2 separate regions of the Homo sapiens genome follow, and region 1 is linked to region 2. Evidence: fine-mapped expression QTL. Tissue or cell type: whole blood. Region 2 holds a variant in brackets; the other region holds the start of a gene. All regions are shown on one strand. Distances are between the middles of the regions. Region 1 holds the start of RALY-AS1 (RALY antisense RNA 1). Region 2 has its middle 22 kb from the start of RALY.

What was found. PIP is the estimated chance that this variant, and not a neighbour inherited with it, causes the effect.
Region 1: it holds the start of RALY-AS1, and the variant in region 2 is fine-mapped to the expression of RALY-AS1 in whole blood (TOPMed, PIP 0.90).

Annotation. Positions count from the first base shown.
Region 1 is chr20:33,985,095-34,000,275 of GRCh38, reverse strand. It overlaps RALY-AS1 (RALY antisense RNA 1), which reads left to right and starts at 5,909. Exons shown (of 2, transcript NR_109886.1): 1 at 5,909-6,071; 2 at 7,371-7,788. RALY (RALY heterogeneous nuclear ribonucleoprotein) reads right to left here and starts at 6,365. Exons shown (of 10, transcript NM_016732.3): 1 at 6,145-6,365. RefSeq lists enhancers at 985-1,485, 6,922-7,448, 7,385-7,464 and silencers at 5,645-5,974, 6,195-6,244, 6,305-6,434, 6,615-6,724, 6,895-7,144.
Region 2 is chr20:33,964,508-33,979,688 of GRCh38, reverse strand. It overlaps the pseudogene PIGPP3. Among named protein-coding and RNA genes, the nearest start is that of RALY, 22 kb to the left of the region's middle. The variant C/T (reference allele first, on the strand shown) is at 6,953.

The DNA of each region.
Region 1 (15,181 bases), 21 kb before region 2:
CACACACTGACCAAACGATGCTCAGGCTAGTGACAAGACTTCCTATTTATTCCACTGCACTCTGTCTCTATTCCTAAGGGTCTGTGAGCTGCACCCTGAGCACAATTTCCTTACAGTACCCAGGGGGAAGTTGTAGGACAAGCAGGTTAACATTACGGCTGTCATTTTCTCCCTTCCAGCTATATAGACATGAAGCCAAAATTGAATAAGACCAAGACACTCAAGTGAAAACCTTGCTATCTCCACCCCTACTATATCCCCTCACCAATGCCAAACTAAGAAGGGGGAGAAGAAGAAAGAAATACCTCTCCTAGAGATATATTATCTAAACCACCACCTAGAATCATAAAATGTAATTGCTAGAAGGGACCTTATGGGTCATCTAGTCATTATTCAGATGAATAAACCTAGACACGTGCCACCCGAGAAAAAGACTGGAGCACACAGTGGGGTCTCCTGACTCCTATCCCTAATAGAAACCCTTCCGGGTCCCTCTCCATCCTGTCCTACCCTGCCCTGCCCCATCCACCCTCTCCCCAGGCCACCGCTGTATCCAAGCTACTGAGACTTCTGCCCTTCTGGATCATGAGCTCCTTAGGATACGTTTTACTTATCTTTGTTTTCCCAGTGCCTAGCAGAGAGTAAGCAGAGAAGTGGCTTCGGCTTAGAGAGGGACTTAGGAATACACTAGTACACGAAAAGACCAGTGCCAAAGGATGTAGCCTGGATAAAATGTAAACTTTTCTTGGCTTAACGTAAGCAGTTTCCAGGCTGTGCCACACCCGGATGTCTAGGATTGAATATCTCCTCTCTTCCTAAACTAATGTTTGCATCATCCAGTTTAGCCAGGAACATGACCAGTTGTGCCATACTCTCACTCTCTCCCTTTCAGACCTGACACAAAGAACTAGAATCCATAACCAGAGGTAAGTGAAAGCATATGTAAGGAGACCCTGCATAAGAAACCCTACCCCCTCCCTTACGTGCTCCTTCTTCTCCTGTGTCCTCACCTCAATAAACAGCACCCATTTACAAAACTGCACCAGGTAGAAACCAGATGTCATCCCGATTCCTTCCTTACCCTCCACACCAATAATCTTTGTCTCATCACTCAATTCCACCTTTTTTCTTTCCTTTTTTTTTTTTTTTTTTGAGATGGAGTCTCACACCCAGGCTGGAGTGCAGTGGTTCGATCTCAGCTCACTGCAACCTCCACCTCCCAGGTTCAAGTGATTCTCCTGCCTTAGCCTCCCACATAGCTGGGATTACAGGTGCCTGCCACCACACCCGACTAATTTTTTTTTTATTTTTAGTAGAGACGGGGTTTCACCACGTTGGCCAGGCTAGTCTCAAACTCCTGACCTCAGGTGATCCACCCACCTCAGCCTCCCAAAGTGCTAGGACTACAAACGTGAGCCACCACGCCCAGCAATTCCATCTTTTTTCTGCACACACTCTTGCACACGCTCTCCCACAACCTTCATTTGAAACACCATCACCTCTTGCCAACCTCCTAACTGGTCTCTCTGCCCACAGTGTTCTAGCTCTCCAGTCCGCTCCTGAACAGGCAGCCAGAGATATCCTTCCAAAATGCACATTGAATCATGGCCCCCTCACCTCCGGATGAAGTCCAAACTCCTCAACACAGGCAAGAAGGCCCTTTCCTGACTTGGCCTCTGCTCTGCCTACCTTGAAAGTCTCCTGTCTGGCCATATCCACCCACCTCAAGCATTATGCTCCACCCAAGAATCCTGAGAAATTTGTTTAGCTCTCTTGGCCCGTTTCCTTCAACTACAGAATGGGAATAGTAACAGTACGTACTTTCGGGATGGTCTTAACCTATTATCACCATTTCTGAACTTACTGTTCCTTCTACCTAGAACAGTCTTATCTCTGCCTCTTCCCTGACTCCCCAGATCTCTTCTTTTCCTGGCTTATGTCTGTTCTCTTGAGGGCTAGGCTTAACCAACTTCTCCTCCTAAAAAGCCTTCCCTGACCTTCCAATGCTGGGTTAGGCATCATTTTTCTGTGCTCTCCTGGTGTCTGTCCCTGTGACAACACTTCTCACACTGCCTGTTTCCTTGCCTATCTTTCCCACTACGCTATACAAACCCAAATCCCTAAGCGTAGCACCAGGTCTAACAGAGGCTCATTAATTCTTCAGTGAATGAAAAACTTTCCAAAAATGAGGTATCCAAAGAAAGACAATCTCAACAAGTAACCAACTCAAATGTCAGCCAGGTGGCTGGTCTAAATGACTGTAAGGTCCCTCAACTACAAGATTCTATTCAATAAATTCAACACACTGACCTCATGGGTCATATTTGTTTGAACTTTAATATGCAGGCAATGTTGGGGCCATCAGATTTTTAAGGAGAGTGTGACATGACCAGACACATGATCATGTGTTTGTTACCCTATTAACCATCTCTGAGACACTGCCTCTCCCAACCCCCAGTTGTTATCAGGACAATATTCCAACCATCTTCATAAACATGAAGAGCCCACTCCCCTAAATGGACCAACACAGAAAACGGTCAAAGGGCATTTTGAAAGGCTATATGCAGCATCTAACTCCATCTTAACCAACTGCAAGCAGTGAGTATCCATAAACATCCTCCAAGAACCCAAAAGCTAATCCCTCCTGTGTGCCTCTATGGAAAAAGGGGGAAGAAAGAGGGAACATTTCATAAAGGTGATCTACTTAATCATTCTGAGTAGTTTTGATCCAAGCTGCTGTCACTGCACTGTTATTCCTGATAACTGCAGCCCAATATCCCCAAACCCTGGACTGTCAGAAGGGCAGGTGCAAACAAGGTGAGGGTGGGGAGTTATCTCGGTTCTATTTTAAGGGTGTAATAGCCTGGCGTGGTGGCTCATGCCTGTAATCCCAGCACTTTGGAAGGCCAAGACAGGAGGATCACCTGAGGTTCAGGAGTTCGAAGCCAGCCTGGCCAACGTGGTGAAACCCTATCTGTACTAAAAATACAAAAATTACCCAGGCGTGATGGTGCATGCCTGTAGTCCCAGCTACTCGGGAGGCTGAGGCAAGAGATCCCTTGAACCCAGGAGGTTGAGGTTGCAGGGAGCCAAGATCGTGCCACCGCAATCCAGCCTGGGCGACGGAGTGAGACTCCGTCTCCAAAAAAAACAGGGTATAAGGTCTCTTCTGCAGATACTGGGGGGCCAGCAGAGATTCAAAACAGGCTTCAGTGATACAGAACATCAACCTAAGGGGGAGAAAAGTAGGTCTTACTCAGAGAGGCCTGGGTTCCTGCCCTGGAGCTGCATGCCACATCTCTGCTGCAGGTGAGGACTAATAATTTTGCATTTACAATGCACTCTGAGACTAAAGAAGACACTAAGTGTGCCAGCTTTGCAGGCACAAAAGGACAAATATTGCATGATTCCACTTACATGAGGTTCCTAGAGTAGTCAAATTCACAGAAAGTAGAACGATAGTTTTCAGGGGCTGGAGGGAGGAGGGAAGGGGGAGTTAGTTTAATGGGTACAGAATTTCAGTTGGGGAAGATAATGGACAGTGATGATGGTTGCATAACCATGCGAATGTATTTAATGTCACATAAATGTACACTTTGAAACGGTTAAATGGTAAATTTTATGTTATATATATTTTACCACAATTTTTTTTTTAAAAAAAGCATGCCAGCTTTAAGGTTATACTGTCTGCAGTCTGAATACTGCCATGGCCACTTACCAGTTACATGACCCTGAGGCAGGTAATGTAACCTCTCTAAGCCTGTTTCTTCTATAAAACAGGGATAATAATAGTACTTAATTCATAGGTTGCTCTAAGAATTAGTAATATAGTCCATAAAGTCCTCAGTCCATTGACTGGTGGTACACGTTAAGTACTTAATAAATTTAGCTATTATTACTACCACTATAAAGCACTTTCATAGCCATTTTCTTAACAATCCCCACAACAACCCTATGAGTTTACAGATAAGGAAACTGAGGCTCAGAGAGCCACAATGAGTGGCTCAGTTTATGATGTCAAATCAAATCCTCTGCTCCAGAGAGGTGTCTTGTCCTCACTACTTACTCATTCTGTCATCTAAGGCAAGTGCTATGCTGTGTCTCCATTCCCTCACAGTAAAAAAAGAGACATAAACCAAGCTCTGCAAACTACCTCACAGAAATGGATTAGAAATTAAATCAGATAATGGTTATGGAAGAGTATATAAGCCATAAACACATAAAACCGAAGTGGTGACTTACGAGAACTAGTACACCTGTGCTTAAACCTGGCCTCCTCTTAATACTAACCATAAGGCACAGAAAGGGGTGGGGACTATAAAACTTCCTTGGGATTTCCAATTACTCAGGATTCCTGACCTTAAGACCTGAATAAGTGGTTTCGTGCCCTTTTAAGAAGTGGCAAGGTATGGGAGAAATAAAAATATTACTGGATTAGGAGGAAGAAGACTGGAAATTTTAGTTCTCACTCTGACACTAAGGCAGTCTGAATTCAGACAACTTACTTCCCCTTTCCAAGGTTCAGTTAACAGGGAAGCGGGGAAAGGCAGATATGAAAAAGTTGGACCAGATGGTAAGACCCCTTTCAGCTCCCACATAGGACTCGTAAATCCAGAATCCTGGCCAGGCACCACAGACGTACCAGACTCCAAAGAACTAATGTGAACATCAAGAGACTCCTCAAGACCTGGCCCAGAAACTCCCTTGCCTGATTTTTAGACACTCCCTCCAACCGGATCACATTGAAAAACTGGAACATTTGCCAAAGTTAATTTTAGTTCACTTTAACCACTCTGGGCCTTATCTGAAAATAGGAGTAATATTTGTTTGAAGGCAGATGACTTGAGCTACTCCCCCTAACCCCCATCAAACTAGGATCGATAAATCTAAACACAGAGAACCTGCAAGGTCTGGGAGGAGGAACACACCACACACAAACTAAAGGGTGGATCCCACCGTTTACAGTCTCAAAGCTTCCTTGAGCCAAAACCCCAGGGAATTTGAGTTGTGTCTGAGACCTGGAGTCTGCATCCATCAACTTCTAACTGCCGCAACACTAGCAAGGAATTCATCCAAACCTTTCCCTTTAGAACTATGGTAACCCCAGAATGGGATTTCATCCACAGTATAGTGGACAACGGCCCAGAAGTCAGGGAAAACCCAGAGTTATGCCCCTAATTAAATGGTGTGACCCAAGGCTAGGTAAAAATACCCTCTGCACTAAGAGATGATACATGCTCACACCAGGAAATATTAATAAATAATAGGTACTGGCACCACTCCTTTGCACTTCTGTGGCTACTGTGACTTGGAGAAAATTACTTGACCCCTCTGCGCCTTAATTTCTGCTTTTGTAAATGAGGATAAACCAGAAGGCCGTTGTGAACATTAAATGAAATAAGGCTTGGGAAGTTCCTGGGTGAAGTCTCATTAAATGTTCCCTGTCGGTGTTAAACACTTCTTTCACATATTAGTTCCCTCCCTGAATCCACGAACACCCCGCAAAGCGAGTTTCCTTCTTTCCCCCCATGTCACCGAGAGGCAAACTAAGACTCGGCCGCCAAGGAGGCTGAGTGAAACGCGGATACGGCCCCAGTTCGAGGGCCCGTTGTTGTTTCTCTCCGAGCCCAAGGCGTGCAAAGAGCCCAGAAGAGGCGGGAGCCGAGGCAGGACAAGCTCTGCGCGCCTCCGGGAGCCCGTAGACCCAGTCCGGGTTAGGAGAGCCGGAAGCAGCCGCGGCCGGGCCCGCCTGCGGCCTCCCCGGAGCAGCCTCCGTTCCCCTCCCTCCGCCCCTCGCCGGGCGGGGCGGGGCACGAGCACAAAAGACTCCAACTTCCGAGCGGGCGCGGGCCCACCCAGCCAACTACTGGCCCAGACTTGGCCCGCGGAGAGAGCAGACAGGGAACGCCGGGAGCAGGACCGGGCGCGGAGGGCTGGGGCCGGGGACCCGGGGCGGCGGGTCCGAGTGGGAGAAAGGAGCGGCGGAGGGGGCCTAGAGTTACTCGGGCTCCCGGGACTCCCCGAAGGGCAGAAATAAGTTTCTAAAAATAGGCAGCGGCCTGCCGGAAGAAGTGAGTGAACGGAAAGGCACAAAGCACACACCCTCCCCGCACCCCTAAGGAGACGCCCGCAGTCCCCACTCACCCGCGCCGAGAGGTCTGGAGGAAGCCGCGCGGCTGGGAAGGAGGCGGTACTGCCGCACTCGGGGACGTAAGGGAGGGAGGAAAAGGGCGGCTGCGGCGGGAAGAGGCTGGGCACACGCGCGGGAGTCGTCGTCGTCGCCGTCGCCGCCGCTACCGCCCCCTCAGCTTCTCTGGGTTCCGCTGCCCCGAGCTGGCGCCGCTCGCGCGCCCCGCCGCACTGACAGCGGCGCGAGCCCCGCAACCGCGAGCCCTGCCCTCGGCCGGCACCACTGAGGCGCGCGGGGGTGGGGGCACCCGGAGCGGCTCCCCGCAGCTCGGCTCCGCCCGCCGCTCCGGCCCTGGTTCCGGGCTCTCCTCCTTCTCTGTCTCCTGGGAAGGACACGGTGACACGAGCACGAGGAGTCTGCAGCCCCGCCCAGAAACAGCCCGGCTTCCCAGGCGCATGGGCTCTCCCCACCCTCTCAGCCTGGCTTTGGAAAGGTCCAGAGCTTCGGCGGGGACGGGAGGAAGGCGGGGCCAGGGTGGGGCCTGAAAGGGAGGAGGGACTGAGACGCGGCTTGGGGAGGCGGGGCTGGGGCGGGAAGAGGGCAGCTTGCACAGGTTTGGAGCCGAAGTAGGGGCGGAGCTAAGATGGTGATGAGGCCCTGGGAAGAGGGTCGCCGGACCAGTGGGGAAGGCCGTGCAGGAGATGGAGAGCCGGGAACCAGGACAGCGCTTGAAAGGAGATGCTGTGGGCGGGGCTAAATGGAGAATCGCCCAGAGGGCGGAGCCACGGGTGGAGGGAGGCGGGGCTGAAGAGAAGCTTAGAGTGGGAGGAAGATGGAAGCGGGCCTGAAGGAGGCGGGCCCGGAAGCAGGGAGGGGAGGAGGGGCCCCGGGGGTGGCTACTCTGGGCGGGTGCCGGAAGGAGGCGTGCCCCAAGGAAGGACTGAGGGGTGGTGCTTGAGGTGGGCGGGGCCTGGAGATGGCGCTCAAATCTGCAGGCTGTGGGCGGTGCAGGAGGGATCCGGAAGAGACGAGGCAGGAAGAAACTCCTGGTCCTTTCGCTTTTAAGGAACGTGCCACCTAGACAAGGTGAGGGTCGCTCTTCGCTGCCTAATCTGGGACTGGGCGGAGAGGCCGCGCTAAGGGTGATCTCCGAAAAAGATGCAGGAGATGTTTTATAACTTGATCCAGGTGCTAGTCCTCTCTCCTACACATTTCTCCTGTCGGGATTTCTCACTTTCAGTGTTCCAGCCTCCGGTGAACCAGTCTTCCTAGTGAGAGCACGAGAAGCCCGTTGTCCTTCATTCCTCAGCTATGGATTTCCCTGAAAGTTGAGAACTGACCATATTCTCGATGCCTCCTCCGACCTGTGATTTCATGACTCACATCGCTTCCCCAGAACCTGCTTAACAGACGGGATTCCTGAGAATGGAGCAGAGTTTGAATTCAGAGTCCTGGCTTTGCCATACCAGCAGTTATAATTGTCCTTCTGTTGTTTGATGACCTCCCTGCCCTGCTTCAAAAGGAAGAGAAATCAAAGAGTTGACGACCCTGAGCGCAAGGCCTGGGACGTTCTTCCCCAAACTCGCTTTAATATCACCTTCTCAAAAGAACTCTTCCCTGAACACCTTGTCTCAAGATGTTCTCTAGTTTGTCTTCTTGTTCTGTCATTTATTTGTCTGTTCATTGTTTGTGTGTTTTTTGAGGCGGAGTCTAGCTCTGTCGCCTAGGCTGGAGTGCAGTGGCACGATCTCGGCTCTCTGCAACCTCTGCCTCCTGGGTTCAAAGCGATTCTTGTACCTCAGCCTCCCAAGTAGCTGGGATTACAGGCGTGTACCACCATGCCCGGCTAATTTTTGTATTTTCAGTGGATACGGGGTTTCATCATGTTGGCCAAGCTGGGCTCTAACTCCTGACCTCAGGGGATCTGCATTTGAGGATAAACCCTGTCTTGGCTCCTCCCTGACGGGGGTGAGAAGTAGCCCTCCTGGAATTGCCTCAAAGCCCCCGGTTATCACCAGTGTTCTCGGTTGCAAATTACGAAACATAAATAAACTCAGACTAACAGATGCAGCAAAGGAATTTATCAGGAAGGAATGGGGAGCTCCCAGAACTGATGGGAAGGCTGGAGAACCAGGCTCAGAAAATGCACTGAAGTGGTGAGCGCAGAGGCTTGAATGTTGCCAGGACTCTCCTCCCAGTCCTTTATCTCTTCTCTCTGTATGCGAGCTTTTCTCCTCAAGGCTAGGCACCTGGCTGCAGCAGCGCTCACCACTCACAACTCTCACCCGTTCCACCGGAGAGAGACTGAGGATTTCTGCTTCTGGTCTGAAGGACAAAATTTTAGGGAAAAACTTTGATTGGTCCAACATAGGTAAGTCCCCGTCCCTAGACCAATCATCTATGGGTGGAAAACCAGGTGCTGTGACTGGCCCAACTTAAGCCAGGTGCCATTCTCTAACCAATACTGTGAATAAGGAAGTGGGACGTACAGGGAGATGGCAGCCCCATCGGAACCATATGGTCAGAGAAAGATGCATTTCCCAAAAGATGGAGTTCATGCTCTGGGGCAGATTGAATAATAGATTTTCACTACACCTGCCCCAGAGTTACCCCCAACCAATACATTACTTACTGCCCAACTCTCATCATTCCTTCTCTGCTCAAAACCCTTCAATGGGCTGGGCGCGGTAACTCACGCCTGTAATCCCAGTACTTTGGGAGACCGAGGTGGGGGGGATTACTTGAGGTCAGGAGTTCAAGACCGGCCTGGGCAACATGGTGAAACCCCATCTCTACTAAAAATATAAAAATTAACCGGGCGTGGTGGCAGGCACCTGTAATCCCAGCTACTCAGGAGGCTGAGGTGGGGTAATCGCTTGAACCTGGGAGGTGGAGGTTGCAGTGAGCCGAGATCATGCCACTGCACTCCAGCCTGAGACACAGAGAGAGACTCCGCCTCAAAAACAGAAAAACAAAAAACAACCTTCAATAGCCTCCCATTGCCATGTCATCAGCATGGATCAAAAACTCAAATGTCATGCCGGGCACAGTGGCTCATTCCTTTAATCCCAGAATTCTGGGAGGCTGAGGCAGGAGGATTGCTTGAACCCAGGAGTTTGAGACCAGCTTGGGCAACATAGTGAGACCCTGTCTCTACAAAAAAAAAAATTTTAATTAGCTGGCATGGTAGCATGTGCCTGTACTTCCAGCTACTTGGGAGGCTGAGGCCAGAGGATCACTTGAGCCCAGGAGGCCAAGGCTACAGTGAGACATGCTCACACCACTGCATCCAGCCTAGGCAACAGAGTGAGACCCTTCTCAAAACAAATAACAACAACAGCAAACCCTCAGGTGTCTACAGGGGCTAGAAAGAAGGTTAGGCATGAGACAATAGGGAGTGGAGAGCACTGTCATGAACTGGAGGATGTGTGTTGCATACTGTTCCTAGAATGCAGGTGCTGAGATGTAGGATTCTTCAAGAGAGCCCCCAAATCTGGATTTTCATATAAAATCTCCCAATTTCTAAATGTTGGCTCAACTATTTTTAAAAACCCTGTGCAAGCCAAATGAATTATGTCTGCAGGCCAATTACTGTAGGCTGTGGTCTAAAAATGAGCAATCTCTGACCTTTATAGGATAAAGCCTATAATCACACACCCACCTTTGGGGTCTGTCATCTATTACTACGTAAGAAATCATCCCGAAAATGTAGTGACTTAAAACAACAATGATTTGTTACTTCTCACAATTTTATAGAATGACCAGGTGGTTCTTCTGCTCCATGTGGTGTTGGCTGGGAAAAGCTTCCTCCTGTCTCCACCTCCACATGTTCTATTTCCTTTTCAAGCCCAACTGCCAATGGCGCCTCCACCCTGAAGCCTGCCTCATCTCCTGTGCCACACACATTGCCACTGGCCAAGTCTAAATGAGATGCCGTGCTCTCCAAGCTTTGTTGCTCTTTATGTATAACTATTAGAGCACACATTTAGCTCACCTAGAGAATGGAGGTCTGCCTTGTCCATCTTTATTTCCTTCTGGCACAGTCACACAGGAAAGCCCCATGGGTGCTGTCAGATTGGATTGAACTGAGCTGACTCTTGGAGATATTTAGTCAAACTTGCCCATTTTACAGATGGAGAAATGACAACTGGAGAGGGGAGTTCTACTGGAGAGGGGAGTTCACACATATACACTGAAAGCTGCCCATCAAAAGAGTTGCAGAACCAGGACTACAGCCCTTGCATCTTGACTGCCAGTACGATGCAGGTTAAACTCTGTGTTTGATGCTTGTTGATGTGGACGTCTGGAACTTGAATAGAAGACATTTCTTATTTCAGATGCATCCATTAGCAGGTCTTAGCCAGGAGCCAGGCCCTTGCAAGTATATATTGCAAGTAATTGATGACATTGGAGCCAGAAATCGAATGAACCGGGCCCAGTTCAATCCACTTACTGGACAAGCTCCTCAAGCACTCTAAGCCCCAATTTCCTCCTCTGTAAAGTGGGCATAAATTACATTTACCTTGAGGGTTGCTGTGAAGGCTAGAAATAATATATGTAATGTCCCCTGATACACAGAAGGTGCTCAAGAAATAGTAAGCTCTTCTAATGATTGTTATTGATGGCAAAGATGATGAAAAAACAAATGCTCTGACTTCTCAAAGGAGAGAGAATCATCCCTGAGGATTGTGTCTTGGAGAACATAAATCCATATTTTCTCTTTCCTGAACAAATTCCCTCTGGAAGGGCACAAAGGGAACAAATTCCCTTGTTAGGAAGGAAGGAAGGGAAGGAAGGATGGAAAACAAGAGCAAGGAAGGGTTGGCAGGTTGTGACTGTCTACCTCTCCCTGAGGCTTGCTCTGCTACACCCACCCCAAACTCTGGTCCATCCCATTTCCATGCTGAGATCAGGCCACACACAGAAGTGTTGGTGTCAGACCACCAGCTTTGAGCCATCCCTGGGAATCCCCAGGATACTGGATAGCAGATTTGGAGCATACAGTTCCCACCCACTGTGACTGACGGCTAGGGAGCTCAAGGTTATGGAGGAAGCTCTCATAAGTCAATGCAAGTTTGTGTGTCTCCCGTTCCTCACTGGCTTAGCCCTCAGAGCCCTTGTCCCTGCTTTCTGCCTTGCAACTAGGTCTTCACATTAGTGTTTTATCAAACAAAAGACAGGCTGACATCTTTAAAGTATGGTCTTTATTAAGTAGGGAGCAAATCATTCCACACCTTCCCTCCCAATACCTCCCTCACCAGTGACTTCAAGCCTTCAAACAAGAGGGGACACCTCTCCCCACTTCCCAGTGACCTTTCTCCGCCCCTCATTGCATCCATGAGTGACACCACTGAGATCAGATGCAGTGATGTTAATTGAAATGGACATTAAGGGCTCACTTGCTCAAGCAGAAGCACATTAGAAGAAATATAAACGAGGAAGACATTGGGTCAGTAACATTTGTTCTAATGAGAATAACCATCTCTAGAGCATCTTGTTCAAAAAGGATTGAGTGCCCAGGAAACAACAGATACATGAGGCCTTCCACCCCCACCCCACCCCCAATACTCAGAAGTGTCACACATACTTGCAGAGACTTTTCAATCATCCTTGCTTCAATCATGATTCCCCAGGTGCATTTCTGTGGGTGTCACCCAGCACATTCCCCCTCGTGTTCTTCATCTGTTTCTCCAAATCTACTTCTCCATATTATTTTAAGAGTTTGTGACCAGATGTTGGTAACATGTGGTCCCAGATGTTCTTATTTGCTATACCTCAGGAATTCTTGACTAAGTGACCCAAGAGCTTCTCAACTTTGGATCCAATAAGGGGAACCTAAGGCTAAAAGAATCCCATCTGGAGTAGAGAGGAAGATACCCAATTACCCAATTTTTTTGTTTGTTTTTGTTTGTTTTCTGAGACAGAGTCTCTCTCTGTCACCCAAGCTGGAGTGCTGTGGTGCGGTCATAGCTCACTGCAGCATTGAACTCCTGAGCTAAGCAGTCCTTCTGCCTCAGCCTTCCGAGTGGCTGGGACTATAGGCATGTACCACCATGCCCAGCTAATTTTTAAAAAAAGTTTTTGTAAAGACAGGGTCTCCTTATGTTGCAAAGGCTGGTCTTGAACTCCTGGGCTCAAGAGGTCTTCCCACCTCAGCCTCCCAAAGTGCTGGGATTACAGGCATGAGCCACCACATCTAGCCCAAGTTTCTGCATAAAGAACATGAAGGTTTTCCTTAGATCATGCTTTACATGGCACATCATGTCTTTATGGTTATTAGTGGGCAGTTGCAAGGTATAGATACCATTTTTGTCTATGCTGTATCATCTCCCAATATTCTTAACAGCATCTGACTTAAAAAAATTTTTTTTTTGAGACAAGGTCTTCCTCTGTCACCCAGTATGGAGTGCAGTGCTGCAATCATGGCTCACTGCAGCCTCAACTTCCCAGGCTCAGGTGATCCTCCCACCTCAGCCTCCAGAGTAGCTGGGACCACAGGTCGTGCCACCATGCCCAGCTAATTTTTGTATTTTTTTGTAGAGACAGGGTTTTGCCATGTTCCTCAGGCTGGTCCCTAACTCCTAAGCTCGAGCAATCTGCCCGTCCCAGACTCCCTGTAAGTGCTTGGATTACAGGCATGAGCCATTGTGCCTGGCCAGCATCTGATTTTTCTGTGAGCCTCTACTCCTATTCTTGGTCCAGGCCATAAAGAGTATGGAAACTAAAGTCTGACTGCCTAGGTTTGAATATTGGCTCTGCCATTGACCAGCTATGTGAACCTGGAAAAATTCCTAACCTCTCTGTGCCTCATATAAGAAATGTGGAGAATAGTATCTACCTCATGGAGTTTTTGGGTTATATGAGTTAATTCAGATAAAATGTTTAAAAGAGTGACTGGCACATAGTAAACACCCCCCAAATGTCATCTAGTATTAATATTATTACTATTAGTTCAGAAGGGGCTGACTTCATTCCCCCTGGCCCTGGTGATGGCACCTGACCCAGGCCTGGCCAATCAGGACATTCTGTCCCCCTGTCCACCATGGAGTCCTTCTCCATGGTCAGTCATACCAGTCATTTGGATTGGCACTGTGGGCTGTGATCTAATGTGAACTCTGAAAGCCTGGTCATGCTGGGCCAAAGCTGCAAAGTAAAGGTAAACATCAAATCTGGGCTGGTTCATCAGGAGAGAACATTCTGAGTAGGGAGACCTGGGGACTATCCAGTTTCACCTTGCAGGTGAAGGCCCACTCTCCCTACTCTAGCCGTTAGTTAGACCCCATGAAAATAATTGCAGTAGACTGTTAATTTGATGGCTTCCAGTGAACCATGCTTCTGGCATTCATACTCTTATGTAGTCCCCTCCCACATTGATTCTGGACTTTGCCATATTGATGCAGGGCAGGTAAGCCCCAGAATTGGGGCTTAGCCCGAGAAGGTTCTTCACTTCATCCAGGAAAGAATTCAAGGGCAAACAGGTGGTGGTAGATGCCAACATTTTTTTTTTTTTTTTGAGACGGAGTCTTACTCTGTCATCAGGCTGGAGTGCAGTGGCACGATCTCTGCTCACTGCAACCTCCGACTCCCTGGTTCAAATGATTCTGCCTCAGCCTCCCGAGTAGCTGGGATTACAGGCAGACACCACCATGCCCAGCTAATTTTTGAATTTTAGTAGAGATGGGGTTTCCCCACGTTGGTCAGGATGGTCTCGATCTCCTGACTTCATGATTCACCCACCTCAGACTCCCAAAGTGCTGGGATTACAGGTGTGAGCCACTGTGCCCAGCCTAGATGGCAACTTTTATTGGAGCAGCAGTGTCCAACAGCAGCAGAGGTACTGCTCCTTGTGGAACAGGACTACCCCCTAGGCAGCATGCCCAGAGTAGCAGCTCAGGGGTAATTCTGTCGTCATATTTATACCCACTTTTAATTACATGCAAATTAAGGGGCAGGTTATTCAGAATTTTCTGGACAAAGGATGATACTTCCAGGCCATTGCCATGGAAAGGGGTGGTAACTTTTAGGTGTTGCCATCACTGTGGTAAACTGACGTGGTGTTGCTGGGTATGTCTCATGGAGAGGTGCTTTCACTGCTTCCCTGTTCACCTAGTCTTCAATCTGGTCCAGAGTTTCAGCCCCATCTCTGGAGTTGAGTCCTGCCTTCTCCCTCAATGTGACAAATGTTGGCCAATGGTATATCGCAGTTGTGATGCAAGCAGAGGCTTGGTAAATGCCTGCATACTGGGGTTTGTCCTCTTGGAATGCTCATTTGTGGGAGCCCTGAACAACTATGTAAGAAGTCTGGCTACCCTGCTGGAGAGAACACATGGTGGGAAGAGACTAAAATTATGTGAAGAGAGTCAGGCCAGCCATCCCAGCTTCTCTGCTGAGCCCCGCCATCAGCCAACCTGCCAGCTGAATGCAACCGTAAGAGTGATCACCAGCAAGATCACTAGAAAAACCACCTAACTGAGCCCACCCTGGATTGAACAATCATAAACAAATAAAATGGTTATTGTTTTAAATCACAAAGTTTTGGGGTTACATAGCAATCGAAACAACAATCATGTTCAATAACATTTCCTAGCTCCACAGAGTTCTGAGAGCTCTCCCACATCTAAGAGATTAGGATTGTTATTAGCCCCATTTTACAGATGGGGAAGCTGAGGCCCAAAGATGGGAAGCAACAGCCCAGTCAAGCAGAGACAGAGCTGTCACATTCATACACTTCTGAGTGAGCTCCTTTCACCGCACCTCCCACTGCAGTAGCTCCTGTCTAGTTGAAGAAACTTATAAAGAGCAGCAGAGAGTGGTGAGGTATAGGAGCACTGGACTGGGATTGACAATAGCCTGGCTTTAAGTTGGCCATTATTTGTCTGTATGTGCTTAGACAACTCAAACCACTTCCCTCCCTGAGCCCATCTTTCCAGCTGTTCAGTGAGGGGGGAAGCAAACTGAAATGCTCGCAGAGGCCAGGTAGATAACACAGACAAGGGAAGCAGGTCAGGTGAGGACTACGGTGGCTGAGCCCATGCCCTTCTAAGCGGGGGC
Region 2 (15,181 bases):
CTACAGTGTAAGACTGTGATTAACTGCGAGTAAGGACAAAAATGCTCTTTACAGTGATTTCAACCATAAGAACCAAATGTAATTATCTCATACAATTGAAAGTCCGTATGTTCCAGTTATCTATTGTGTATAACAAACCATCTGACTTAGTGATATAAAACAAAAACAACTGTATTCTGGTCACAGATTATGAGGATCAGGAATTCACACAGGGCACCATAGGGATAATTTATTTCTGCTCCATGATGTTTAGGGCCTTATTGAGGAAGACTCCCAGGGTTGAGGACTAGAATCATCTGAAGACTTCTGTGCTCACCTGTCTGGTGCCTGGGCTGGGATGACTCAAAGGTTGGGCACAGTGGGGACTGTAGATCACAATACCTACACATAGCTTCTCCGTGTGGCTTGGGCTTCCTCCTAGCATGACAGCCACAGGGTAGTTAAACTCCTTACATAGTGGCTCAGGAACCTGTGAGTAAGTATTTCAGTGAACAAGGCAGCAGCTGCATGGTATTTTACGACTCAGCCTCTGAAATCACACTGCATCATTTCTGCTATACTCTTTCTTGTTGTTGTTGTTGTTGTTGTTAATGAAGAAAAGATTTATTTAGTAATTACTACCTGCCCAGAAATTGTTCTGTGAATTTCACATACAACTCATCTAATCTTCACAATGATCCTATGAGGTATTTATGATTATCCTCATTATACAGAGGTGGAAAAGGAGGTATAGAGCCGTAAAGGTCATATTGTGCCACAGGTCACAATTAGCAAGTGGTAGAGCCAGGGTGTGAACATTAGGTAGGTGGGATTTCTGTTGTACTCTGTTGGTCAAAACAGAAGCCCATCCAGGTTCAAAAGGAAGGCACATGACACCACCCTTTTATGGGAAGAATGTCAAAAAATTTACTGGGCTAGCAAAAACTTAAATTTCCAAAAGACCTGCAGGTAGTGGCTTTAAATATATCTTTTTGTTGCCTCCGCCTCCTGAGTAGCTGAGATTACAATTTTTGTATTTTTAGTAGAGACGGGGTTTCACCATGTTGGCCAGGCTGGTCTCGAACTCCTGGCCTCAGGTGATCTGCCCTCCTCGGCCTCCCAAAGTGCTGGGATTACAGGTGCGCATCACTGCGCTCAGCCTTAAATATATCATTTTGAAAAAAAAGAAAATAGAGATTTCTATACTTAAGATGCTGCCTGATACCCTCACAAGTGTTCAGTAAACTTGCTTGTTATTATTACTTGAACTAAGTCTTTTTTTTTTACATGTATACCAATATAGAGAGAGACACAAGTATCATTGCACACAGATGCAATATCATACATACAATGCTGTTTCTTTTAAAAACTACAGTGTGGCTCTCTCTTCATATCTGTGTCTATAAAATTACTTCCTTTTAAAATATTTTTATTATGGAAAATTTCAAGTATATACAAAAGCAGAGGAAATAATATATCAAATTCCCATTTGCCCATCATCCAACTTCAGTGTTTATCAATTTATGGCTAGTCTCTACCTACACTCATTTCTTTATTCCCACATTATTTTGAAGCAAATCTCAGAAATCACATTTTTTCATTCATAAACATTTTAGTATGTGTCAGAGCTATCTTTCTTTTTTTAATGACAAAAGCAATACCTGGTTGTTACTTAAAAACACTAATGTTACAGACACAGATAACATGGAAAATAAATATTCCTTGCTATGGTTTGAATGTCCCTTCCAAAACTCATGTTGAAATTTATTTACCAATGTGATGGTATTGGGTAGTGGGGCCTTTAAGAGGTGACTAGGTCATGAGGGCTTGAGGGAGTGGGTTAATTTTCATGGGAGTGGGCTCCTGATAAAAGAAAGAGTTTAGCCCGATATCCTCTCTCTGTCTTGTGCACTAGCTTCCACCTTCTGCCCTTCCACCATGGGAAGACCCTCACCAGATGCTAATGCAATGTTCTTGGACTTCCCAGCCTCCAGAACGATGAGCCAAATAAACTTCTGTTCTTTATAGATTACCTAGCCTGTGGTGTTCTGTTATAGTAGCAGAAAACAGACTAAGACATCTTTCACAGCCACAATCTCTAGACATAACTGCTTTCTTTCTTTTTTTCTCTTTTGAGACAGGATCTTGCTCTGTCACCTAGGCTAGAGTGCAGTGGTATGATCAGGGCTTACTGCAGCCTCACCTGCCTGGATTCAAGCAATTCTCCCTCATCAGCCTCCCAAGTAGCTGAGATTACAGGCACACACCACCATGCCCAGTTATTTTTTTTAATTTTTTTGTAGAGATAAAGTCTTTCTACATTGCCCAGGCTAGTCTCAAACTACTGAACTCAAGCAGTCCTCCCACTTTGGCCTCCCAAAATGCTGGGATTACAGGTGTGAGCCACTGCACCTGGCTCATAACTGCTTTTGACATCATCTTAACTAATTTTCCTCTAGATCTCTTTTTCTATGTGTGTACCAGCATATAGCAATACTTTTCAAAAAAATGTATTTTATTTTGAAATAAAAATAAAGTATTTAAATATTTTAAAATAAAATGTTATTTAAAATAAAGTATTTTTATTCAAAATAAAAATACTTTTTTTGAAAAGTATTATTATAAACCTATTTGGTACATTGTTTTGTAACAAGAATGTGCTATTTAGTGATATATCTTGGACATAGATCTGTTGCACAAAGGTTCTGGGTCTTTCTGGTAGATTCTCCCATTCCTGAGACCATGGAAAGGTTAGGCAAGCTCTGGTGTGAAGATTTTAGCCAGAAGCCATAGTGCAAACCCAAGAAAGCCAGCATGATTTCCACCCTTCCTCTTCTCCCCTCCCCTGTTAGTTAGATATTTTGTTTCATTGGTTCAGCCCAGTCTGGAAAAATTATGGTTGGGTTTTGAGAAGCAGCTCTAAGCTGGCTATTTGAGAAGCAACAGTAATGAAGGGTGAGGCAGGCAGGCCCTCACCTCGTAGGCTGCATAGAACACTGCAAATGAACTTAGACTGGGATTCCAGATACCTTTGCTTCTTGTCTTGACTCTGCCCTTTGTATCTTTATTATGGTTAATTTGTTGAGACATCTTTTTTCCAGATAGACTATTAGGGTAGGGAACTGAGGTCTCTTCTTATTAGGTCATCTTATAGGCATTGATGTGGAAAAGAGGAAATAAATCTATCAGTATTTGGGGGAAAAGATTATGTAACTGAAAACACCAAGAGAATCAATTGCGAGACTGCTGACAACAATAAATGAATTCCACGGAATAACATGGTAAAGAATTAATAAACATCAACTGCTTTCATGTATGCAAACAATAGTCAATCAGAAGACACAAAGGAAGAAGATATCCCATTTGCAATAGCAACAAAAAAGAGGCAGAGATTCAATTTGTGAAGAAATTTAAACACTTCTTTACAAAATACCTGGAAATAAAGGTGCGAGATTTATATGAAGAAAAGTTTAAAATATTACCAAAGGACATGAAAGATTTGAACAATAGGAAAACGTGTCATGTTCTTGGATAAGATGACTCAGTAATAAAATATATATATATATATATTTCTTTTTTAATATATATGGCATAAGGAAAAAATATATATAATTATACACAGTCCTTATGTGCTCTCTCTCTCTCCCTCCCTCCCTCTCTCTCTCTCTACATATATATATATATATATATATATACGTGTATATATATACACATATATACACACACACACACACACACATATATATATATATATATATATATATAAATAGTCATACATCACTTAACCGTGAGGATAAATATTGAGAAATGCTTCATTAGGTTATTTCATCCTTGTGCAAAGAACATCATAGAGTGCACTTATGCAAACCTAGATGGTATAACCCACTACACACCCTATTGCTATACCATAGACATATATATGGTATAGCCTATTGCTTCTAGGCTACAAGCCTATACAGCATGTTACCATACTGAATACTATGGGCAATTATAACACAATGGGAAGTGTGTGTGTAATTAAACATATCTAAGTTGGCTGGGCACAGTGTCTCACGCCTGTAATCCCAGCACTTTAGGAGCCTGAGGCAGGTGGATCGCCTGAGTCAGGAGTTCAAGACCAGCCTGGCCAACATGGCGAAACACCATCTCTACTAAAAATACAAAAATTAGTCAGGTGTGGTGGCACGCACCTGTAATCCCAGCTACTCGGAAGGCTGAGGCAAGAGAATCACTTGAACCCAGGAAGCGGAGGTTGCAGTGAGCCGAGATTGCGCCACTGCACTCCAGCCTGGGCGACAGAGCAAGACCCTGTCTCCCAGATAAATAAATAATAAATAAACATATCTAAGCATAGAAAAGGTACAGTAAAAATATGGTATAAAAGATACAATTGTACACCTCTATAGGGCATTTACCATGAATGGAGCTTGCAAGACTGAAGTTGCTCTAAGTGCATCAGTGGGTGAGTGGTGACTGAATGTGAAGGCCTAGGACATTACTGTACACTACTGTCGACTTCATAAACACTGGACACTAAGGCTGCACTAAATGTATGAAAAGTATCTTTTTTCTTAAAAAATAAATTTAGTTCACTGTAACTTTTTTACTTTATAAACTTAAAAAATTTTAAAAACCTATTGACTGTTTTGTAATACATAGCTTAAAACACAAACAAATTGTACAGCTCCACAAAACTATTTTCCTTCTTTATATGCTTATTCTATAAGCTTTTTTGATTCTGAAGGTTTTTGTTTTTATTTTTTAAACTTTTAAATTAAAAACTAGGACACAAACACACACATTGGCCTAGGCCCACACAGGATCAGGATCATCAATATCATCATATTCCAGGTCCACCCACATCTCATGCCACTGGAAGGTCTTCGGCGGCAATACATACATGGAGCTGTCAACTCCTATGATAACAATGCCTTCTTCAGGAATACCTCCTGAAGGACCTGCTTGAGGATGTTTTACAGTTAACTTTAAAAATGTAAATAAGAAGGCTGGGTGTGGTGGCTCACAGCTGTAATCTTAGCACATTGGGAGGCTGAAGTAGGAGGATCCCTTGAGGCCAGTTCAAGAGCAGCCTGGGCAAGAAAGCAAGACTCTCATCTCTACAAAAAAGTGAAAAAAGAAGGCCAGGCGCAGTGGCTCACGCCTGTAATCCCAGTACTTTGGGAGGCCGAGGTGGGCGGGTCACCTGAGGTCGGGAGTTCGAGACCAGCTTGACCAACATAGAGGAACCCCGTCTCTACTAAAAATACAAAATTAGCTGGGCGTGGTGGCTCATGCCTGTAATCCCAGCTACTCGGGAGGCTGAGGCAGGAGAATCGCTTGAACCCGGGATTCGGAGGTTGCGGTGAGCCAAGATCATGCCATTGCACTCCAGCCTGGGCAACAAGAGTGAAACTCTGTCTCAAAAAAAAAAAAAAAAAAAGAAAAGAAACAATAAAACAAATAAATAAATAAGAAAAGAAAAAGAATGAGAGAGGACTACCGCTATCAAAGATACAATCTTTATAAATAATAATTAAAGCAGTATAGTGTTGTTGTATGAATAGATAGACAACTAGCCGGATAGACTAGAAAGCCTAGAATACATCCAAAATACACACAGGAATTAAGTATATGATAATAGTCGCATCTTACACCAGAGGAGATAAGATAGACTGTTTCAAGAGAGTTGACGGGAAAACTGGGTACCCATATGATAGAAAGCAACAACAGCAACAAGTTAGATCTATTCCTCTCTCTCTTCACCAGGTAATTTTTTTTCTTTTTTGGTCTCTAATTCCTGGTGATAAGATAGGGGAATTTTTAAAAGATAGACAGGACTCTGGTGATGCTGCCTGGCTAGATTCCAACTCCTGGGTTTAAGCAATTCTCTCGACTCAGCCTCCTTAGTAGCTGAAACTACAGGTACATGCCACCACATACAGCTCAGGATAATTTCTACAAGGATCAAAGATTCAAATAAAAAAGTAAAGATGTTGGCCGGGCACAGTGGCTCACATCTGTAATCCCCGCACCTCGGGAGGCCGAGGCGGACGGATCACCTGAGGTCAGGAGTTCGAGACCAGCCTGGTCAACATGGTGAAACCCCGTCTCTACCAAAAATATAAAAATTAGCCAGGCGTGGTGGCACGCGCCTGTAGCCCCAGCTACTCGGGAGGCTGAGGCAGGAGAATCGCTTGAACTCGGGAGCTGGAGGTTGCAGTGAGCCGAGATCACGCCACTGCATTCCAGCCTTGGCAACAGAGCAAGACTCTGTCTAAAAAAAAAAAAAAAAAAAAGTAAAGACACTAAAAGAAAACATAGGAAAATTCCTTTATTTTGAGGGCATGGAAAAGGCCTACCTAATTATGACTCAAAACTCAGATAAATTTCACTTTTTTTAAACTATCAGATTAGCAAGACCCTAACATGTTATCTGTCGGCAGAGAGTCAGTGGAGGGGGCATGGCAGTCTCAGGAGAATAAGGAATATAAGTTGGTGCAATACCTATAGAAGATAATTTGGAAACATCAAAATTAAAAATACATGTGCTCTTTGTCCCAACAATTCCATTTCTGAGAATTTACAATAGCACCTTTACCTTTAAGTATGAAATGACAAATGCATAAACTTATTCATTGTGGCATTGTTCACAACGACAAATAATTAGAAAGAATCTAAGTGTTAACCAGGAAATTGGTTTAATCCATTGCAGCACATCTGTATAATAGTACATATATGTAAAAAAAGAATGTGTGGGATTTCCAGTTCCACCAACATGGAATAGCTCCATTTCTCCCAGGTCCTCTCCCTAAAAACTAAAAATCCCTGGACACAACACAGCAAACCTAGGAAGATTCTCAAGGGTGGAAAGAAGAAGGCACACTACAAACCAACAGCTCTCATGAACTTGGATGTAAAAGTCCTCAACAAAATATTAGCTAATCAAATCCAGCGATAGATAAAAAGAATTATA[C/T]ACCATGACTAAGTGAGATTTTGTTCAGGTATGCAAGGCTGGTTCAATATTCAAAATTATTTCTTCTTCTTCTTCTTTTTTTTTTTTTTTTGAGACAGGGTCTCACTCCATCACCCAGGCTGGAATGCAGTGGCACCATCTCAGCTCACTGCAACCTCCGCCTCGCAGGCTCAAGTGATTCTCGTGCCTCAGCCTCTCAAGTAGCTGGGATTACAGGCGTGTGCCAACATGCCCAGCTAATTTTTGTATTTTCAGTAGAGACAGGGTTTTACCATATTGCCCAGGCTGCTCTCGAACTCCTGGACTCAAGTGATCCACCTGCCTTGGCATCCCAAAGTGCTGGGATTACAGGCGTAAGCCTCTGTGCCCAGCCTGGCTATTTAAATTTAAGTTAATTAACATTAAATTAAATTAAAAATTCACATCCTTAGTCAAGCTAGCCATATTTCAAATGTTAAATAGTCATCTGTGGCTAGTGGCTCGTGTATTGGACAGCACAGAATTACAAAACATTTTCATCACAGAAAGGTCCATTGGACATCACTGACCTAGAGAATTACCCTTTACTGTGTGCTTACTATAAAATATAGCTGTCTGTTGAAACATCTCAGTGAGTGTTCTCTGGGGCTAGATTGTCTAGGTATGAACCCCAGCTCTGCCAGTCACTAGCTGTGTGACCCTGAGCAAGTTACTTCACCTCTCTGTGCCGCATTTCTTCAACTGTAAATTGGGCATCATAATAGTATCTACATGAGATTACTGTGAGGATTCAATGAGATAATACATGTCAAACACTTGCAACACTACGCTGACCCATAGTAAATTCTCAGCACCTGTTGTTTTTATTTAAACCTCACAGCAGCCCTGTTAGGTAGGCGTTATTATGGTTCTCATTTATGGGAGCAGAAATTGAGGCTCAGAGAGCTGGAATAACTTACTCAAAGTCACATGGCAATGAAGTGGCAGAGCTGGCTTTGAACTCCACAGCCCACAGTTTTCTAGACTTTAAGCTACTTCTGCCTCTGAGGGGTAGGATGCCTCTGCTTCTAGCCTCAGCTGGCACTTGGTCTAGCTCCACGATCTTCTTTGCCAGATGAGCTTCTGCCAACCCTACCAGGGGCTCCAAGTACTCATCCACATCCCTATCACCATCAGCAGGGGCCTCCACCATCCACTGGCACCCATGAGAAAGCCTTCCCCTTCCTGCTGCCCTAGGTGAGGTGCTGGGCCCAGAGCACTGCACAAATAGAACATGAATTCTGCTGACAGAGTAATAATAAGGCCCCTAAATCAACACTTGGACTTTTTGCTTTACATATATTACTCAAACTACATGTCAGGAATTAATACACATTATAAACCAGATGTGCCAGTTACATATTTCTCTCTGGAACATCTCTTGGATGCCTCCTGAAACTGCTACTGGTGTTAATCACACATTGTTTCCACCCTACTCTGCCCTTTGTGGGACTGCGCTGACAGCAGGAGGGGCAGGGAAGGGGCAGGAAGGATGGGAGGCCTAGAAGATCTGTAAGGAGCCAAAGCGCTGATTTTCTCACTTTGGAACCCGGCCCAGCTGTGTTGGGTTCCACAACAACTTCTGTATCTCTCTTTTTTTTTTTTTTTTTTTTTTTTGAGACAGAGTTCTGCTCATGTTGCCCAGGCTGGAGTGCAATGGTGCGATCTCGGCTCACCATAGCCTCTGCCTCCTGGGTTCAAGTGATTCGCCTGCCTCAGCCTCCCAAGTAGCTGGGACTACAGATGCATACCACCATGCCTGGCTAATTTTTTGTATTTTTAGTAAAGACAGGGTTTCGCCATGTTGGACAGGCTGGTCTCAAACTCTTGGCCTCAGGTGATCTGCCTGCTTTGGCCTCCCAAAGTGCTGGGATTACAGGCGTGAGCCACTGCACCAGGCCCACTTCTGTATCTTTCTGCTGTGCAGACTGGGACTGTTAGCCTGATATCCCAGTACTTAGCTGGGGTCTGGCACATGGTGCATATTCAGAGAAGGTGGCAGAGGCTGCTGATTTCCTACTCCAGGTTATTCTCTCCTTGTTTCCAAAATAGGGTTTTTAAAAACCTTGATGTTCTTTGGGGCTGCAATGTACCAAGCTAAAAATACTCACCTCCATAATTTCTTTTGTCACTAGGTATGGGTATGGGAACTAGCTGTGGCCAATAAGATGAAAAAATATATATATGCTGGGGATTTCTGCAAAGTCCTGACATAAGGGCCATTAGTTACTCCTTCTCATTTCCTCTCCCTCTGCCTGGAACATAGTTGTGATGGTCACAATTGCAGCCATCTTGCAACCATGAGGTGAAAAGTATGAGGACAAAGGCCTACATGCTAGGATGGAGGTGTGAAAGGGTGGAAATAATCTGGAATCACATGGATATATCTGAGCCTTTGTGCTAGTCCTGTTATGCCCTACCGCCAGACACACTGTTATTTAAATAAATAACAAGATAAACAAGCCTCACTCTTAACCTTGCACTTATCGGGACTTATTGCATTCCTGATGCGTTTGTTTTTAATGTGCTGGCATCCATAGGAAAGCAACTCTTGGGGCACCCCTTTGGTCCTTGCCTCCTTCTCTAAAGTATGCCTATGACTACATTCCTGCCCACACCCCACAGTCAGAGTGTCCACCACATTCCCCACTGGGTGAGTGGTGGGCCATGGCCATACCTGATTGAGCCAATGAAATTAACCTGGCCTAACCACTTTCCCTCCCTGACAATTTCAACTCAATCCAGAAATTTGCATTAGAACATAGAAATTAGCGTTTGCAGCCTGCTGTGGCCCCAGGAAGGTTTCCTTTGGCCAGGATAGTGCTTTTTTAGATTTTTGAAAAACATCAAGCTTACCCCAAATAGCTGGATATCTGACCTCTCTTGAAATAGTGGAAAATCTGGCATCACCGGGCTCACATTCCACATGGCAATAAATGGCTGTGGCTGGGAAATGGCTGCCCCCTCTAGACAGGCACACACTCGCACAATTTTTACAGTCCCTTGGGAGAGCTTCCCTTGGGACTATGGAAAATGTGTGTGCCTGTGTTCTATACATGGCTCCTTTTCATCATCCCTGTTGGCTCCTGTAGGCATTTGAAGTTTAAGATGCCTGCTTTAAGTAGTCTCTATAAGTCCCCAAACCGTGCTGATAATAATGCTGATAATGAAGATAACAATAGCAACAATTACTGATGGCTCCTGTGGCCTAATAGCTTGGTGAGGGCTTTACACACGTTGTGTGATTTCATCCTCAAAACAGGAAAACTGTTGTCCTCATTGTACAGATGAGGAAACAGAGCCCAAAGAGGATCAGTAACTTGACCAAAACCTTGTGGATGGTAAACTGTACATCTGAGATTTGAATCCAGGCATTCTGACCTCAAAGTGGGTGCTTCCTAAACAGTAAGCTATAATGTCTTTCCATGAATTAAGACAAAACCACAGCTGGAAAGAAGTATGTGGCAGTTGTATTGAGAGAGACAGAGAAAGAGACAGATAGAGAGAGAGAAATTGAGGCACCAAAGTGGGAGGCAGAGGGAGTAGCTGCCTGGGCCCCTGTTTTCTATTTCCCTGTGAAGCCTAGCTGTAGCCCACATTTGGGTTGCACGCAAACCACAAGTTGGGATTCATAATGCAAGCAACAGAAACTGACTGTGGTAGATTTAAGCAGGAGAGGAATCAGTAGAAAAGATACCAGAGAGCTTTTGGCATTGCTGGGAAGGCTGAAGAACCAGACCTGGACACCGCAATGGCAGAAACACAGGGCCTGTGAGGACCCTGCTGCCTCCAGTGCAGAGTACCAGACCCTTCCACTTGCCTCTCTGACTCTGCTAAAGCTCCACATCTGCATGCTAGGAACAGTCACTGGCCCTACTGCCCAGGCTGCCCCAGAGACAGGATATTGCTGCTTCTATGGCCACCACCACCAGACTACCTCTCCACTGTCCCTGTGTCTTTCTTTTTTTTTTTTTTTAAGATTTAAGTGGAAGTTTTTGTTTTATTGGTTTGGTTTGGGTTGGGTTGTTGTTGTTGTTGTTGTATTGTGTTGTGTTTTCTTTTGTTTAGAGACAGAGTCTCGGCCGGGCACAGTGGCTCACGCCTGTAATCCCAGCACTTCGGGAGGCTGAGGTGGCCGGATCACTTGAAGTCAGGAGTTCAAGACCAGCCTGGCCAACATGGAGAAACCTCGCCTCTACTAAAAATACAAAAAGTACCCAGCCATGGTGGTGTGCACCTATAATCCCAGCTACTCAGGAGGCTGAGGCAGGAGAATCGCTTGAACCCAGGAGGCAGAGGTTGCAGTGAGCCAAGATTGTGCCACTACACTCCAGCCTGGGTGACAGAGCAACACTCCATCTCAAAAATAAATAAATAAATAAATAAAATTTAAAAAATAAAAAATAAAAAAATAGAGTCTCACTCTGTTGCCCAGGCTGGAGTGCAGTAGCATGATCTTGGCTCACTGCAACCTCCATCTCCCAGGTTCAGGTGATTCTCCTGCCTCAGCCTCCCAAGTAGCTGGGACTATAGGTGCGCACCACCACACCTAGCTAGTTTTTTTAAATTTTTTAGTAGAGATGGGGTTTCACTATGTTGGCCAGGCTGGTCTCAAACTCCTGGCCTCAAGAAATCCACCTGCCTCAGCCTCCCAAAGTGCTAGGATTACAGGCATGAGCCACTATGCCCAGCACTGTCCTTATGTCTTTATATTACCGACTCCTCATTCAAAGTTTGGTTTATGCTTCTGACTGGCTGAGCCTAGGTCACTTGCCCAAACCTTAGCTGCAAGGGAGGCTGAAAAGCAAATAGCTAGCACTGCCACATTCTATGTGGGGAAGTGAGCTCTACTTCCCACCAAGACTCATATGATGGGAAATTCTTCAGACATGAGTATGTGTTTCTGAGGCTGGACAGCCAAAAGGAACAACTATCCATAAAAATTCACAGTGTCCCCTTTTCAATAAGCTAGCTCAAGTGATTAGCATTTAGAATTGCATCAAAAAAGAGATAGCACTCAAGTGCAGTGATCAAGGAAAATATTTATTTATTTTTTTGAGACAAGGTCTCAGTCTGTTTTCCAGGCTGGAGTGCAGTGGTGTGATCACAGCTCACTGCAGCCTTGACCTCCCAGACTCAAGCGATCCTCCTGCTTCACCCTCCCAAAGTTCTGGGATTACAGGTGTGAGCCACCCCACCTGGCCAGGAAAGTATTTATAAAGTTGTAACAATCGTTAAGGGAAGCCAACGGGAATGGGGGAAGCACCCCAGAGACTGCAACAGTTGAGGGGGGTACATTATGGGTCCAGGCCTAAAGAGGCAGGGAGAAGGAGTGCTTCCGTGAATGTGGAAAGAGTTGAAGTTGAGAAAACGGTTTTCCATGATAGTTCCAGTCCTTGGCCCCAGTGGCGGGGGAGCTGGGTAAATAAATACCCTCATTTCTCTCTTCTTCCATCCTCTAGTATCCTGCACGTGTCTCCCATTGAGCAAACCCAATAGAAAGCCAGGGAGTAAAGAATCCTTTCGACATATTCCATTAAAGTGAATCTCTGGGACACAGCACCACTGGTGGAGAGGGCGAAGGGTAGATCTGGAGAGCTAAACAGAATAGCTAACAACCCATGGCATGATCCTGATCTTACCATTGAATCACTCTAAGCCGGTTTTTCCACTTTAATTGAGAGACTCTGGCATTTTGTGGTTCTCCCAGAACTTTCCAACTGGCCACTGCTGACATCTCCTCCTTTTTGGCCTGACCTGTTAATTTGTTCCTATCTATAAGCCTGCATGTGAAGGTCACAGCCTTTGGTTTCCAAAAAGCAGAGTCTTTTCTATGTGGTCACAGGGAGTCGCCTTTGTTGCAGGTGAAATCAATTCTCCATCCAGGTCCCCAAATTCTGATTTGACGGCTCTCCTGGAATTTTGCCAAACAAGCAACTTGCCTCTGTAAGGCATGAACTGTCTTCCCAGATATCAAGAGCTGCCCTCGTGGGGTGGGTTGTTTCTTTCTTTCTCTCTCTCTCTCTTTCGAGACAGAGTCTCACTCATTGCTCAGGCTGGAGTGCAATGGTGCGATCTCGGCTCATTGCAACCTCCGACTCCCAGGTTCAAGTGATTCTCCTGCCTCAGCCTCCTGAGTAGCTGGGATTACAGGCGCCTGCCACCACACCTGGCTAATTTTTTTGTATTTTTAGTAGAGGCGGGGTTTCACCCTGTTGGCCAAGCTGGTCTCGAACTCCTGACCTCAGGCGATCTGCCCACCTCGGCCTCCCAAAACGCTGGGATTACAGGTGTGAGCCACCACGCCCGGCCTGTTTATTTATCTTTCAAAGCCTCATTTGGTCTCTTTTTCCTCTCACGACTTGGTCTGCCAGCCAAATTTTACTCTAGCTTCCCGCATTCCCTGTTGAGTGATCATCTCTCCATGACCCAGATCTTAGTCCTTCTCTCTACAAAGAACTACAAAGAACATCGTGTCTCTACCTTAACTGCAGTCTGGTGACTCTGTTGCCAGCATGGCTTGAAATGGTTCTTGCCTAGACTTATTTTTTTTTTAATGGTAATGCTGTATTTTATTCTGTTCATTAACAATACATGAGAACACTTACAATATTCATTGAACATAATCTAAGAGAAGATCAATTTACAATTTTTACATCTCCTCTATTAATAAGAGAGATGGTTGAATTAATTTATGGTCAAAATTACGATGGCAAAAACTTATAAATAAATAAATGCTTGGTGTTAGTGTGTCCGGAATTTATTCCCTCCAGCGGGTTCTTGGTCTCGCTGACTTTAAGAATGAAGCCGCGGACCTTCGCGGTGAGGGTTACAGTTCTTAAAGACGGTATGTCTGGAGTTTGTTCCTTCAGATGTTCAGATGTGTCCAGAGTTTCTTCCTTCCCGTGGGTTTGTGATCTCGCTGACTTTAGGAGTGAAGCCGCAGACCTTCACAGTGAGTGTTATAGTTCATAAAGGTGGCACATCGGGAGTTGTTTCTTCTTTCCGGTCGGCTGGTGGTCTCGCTGACTTCAGGAATGAAGCTGCAGACACTCCCCGTCAGTGCAGAAAAGTTCTCCAAGTCCCCACCCGACCCAGAAGCCCAGCCAGCTTCACCTCTCATTAGTATGGCCAGGTACATTTCAGTTTTTGGTGTAAAGGTCTTTGGCTACAAGAAAGAAAATTTGGTTTACTTCACTAAATAGAAATAGCTCTTAATGCTGGAATGGCCTCCTCTTAGTATTTCTTCTGCTGTTGATTTTTAGCATAGTTATCTGTGATTGTACGAATGGAGTCGAGTGAATGGGGTACAAACAAGAGCACATAGCCAATTACTATAGTAATAAGGAAGTAGAGAGGTAATGCAACTGTCCAATATTTTTGAGGCCAATAGGTTAAACCTAAGGAGTTTAGCCAAGATTCAGGAATAGAAGCCTACACGAGGTAAAGTATGAAGCCAAATTGGGAGCTTAAGAGAAGCAGAAGGCCATAAATCGGTCTTTCTGGCAATGGTGACAGTGAATTTTCCACCATTTTTCCTGGGGCTTGAGACAATCTCAGCACTGAGTTCCCTGTGCAAGCGCCGACCAGGAAGCCCCAGTGCGGGGCGAGGGGGAAAGAGGAAAAATTGAGGGAAAGGCCTAGGCGCGAAGGCTCCCCCAACCCAGGCGCAGGCACACGACGACCCTCCCGCTGGTTGGGAGCCAGTGAGCGCCTCTTGCCTAGATTTCTGATGGGAGAAGCTGTTTCTCCTCATCCTTAAAGTTTTGAGTGGATGACCTAGATAAATGAGCAATGAAACTATGAAGACTAAGTTCAAAGGAGTGACATTTAGCATTGTGATCATCTAAAATCTGTACAAGTTAGGCGATGCATTTAATAAGTGATTATAAATATTTAACGTATACATATACAGCAAGTGACAAGCGTTTTATCATGAGCATTAGCATTCTTAGGGAGAGGTGGCAGTGGAGTGGACTGTGATGTTCGGCACAGGCAACCCTCCTCCCCCACTGAGGAATGAAGGATTTATTCCACCTGCTACTGGGAAAAGTGTTGGCAGATGATCCTTGGCTCTAAGCCCTCTTTGGGAATTTCCTTGGCAGCTGCCTTTTCAGGGCAGTCTGCATAAATGATTGATCAGCTTGGGAGCTTAGAGGCCTGGTCCCCTTGCCTCTACTCAGGACAACTTGGAAGACCTATTCCAGTTTT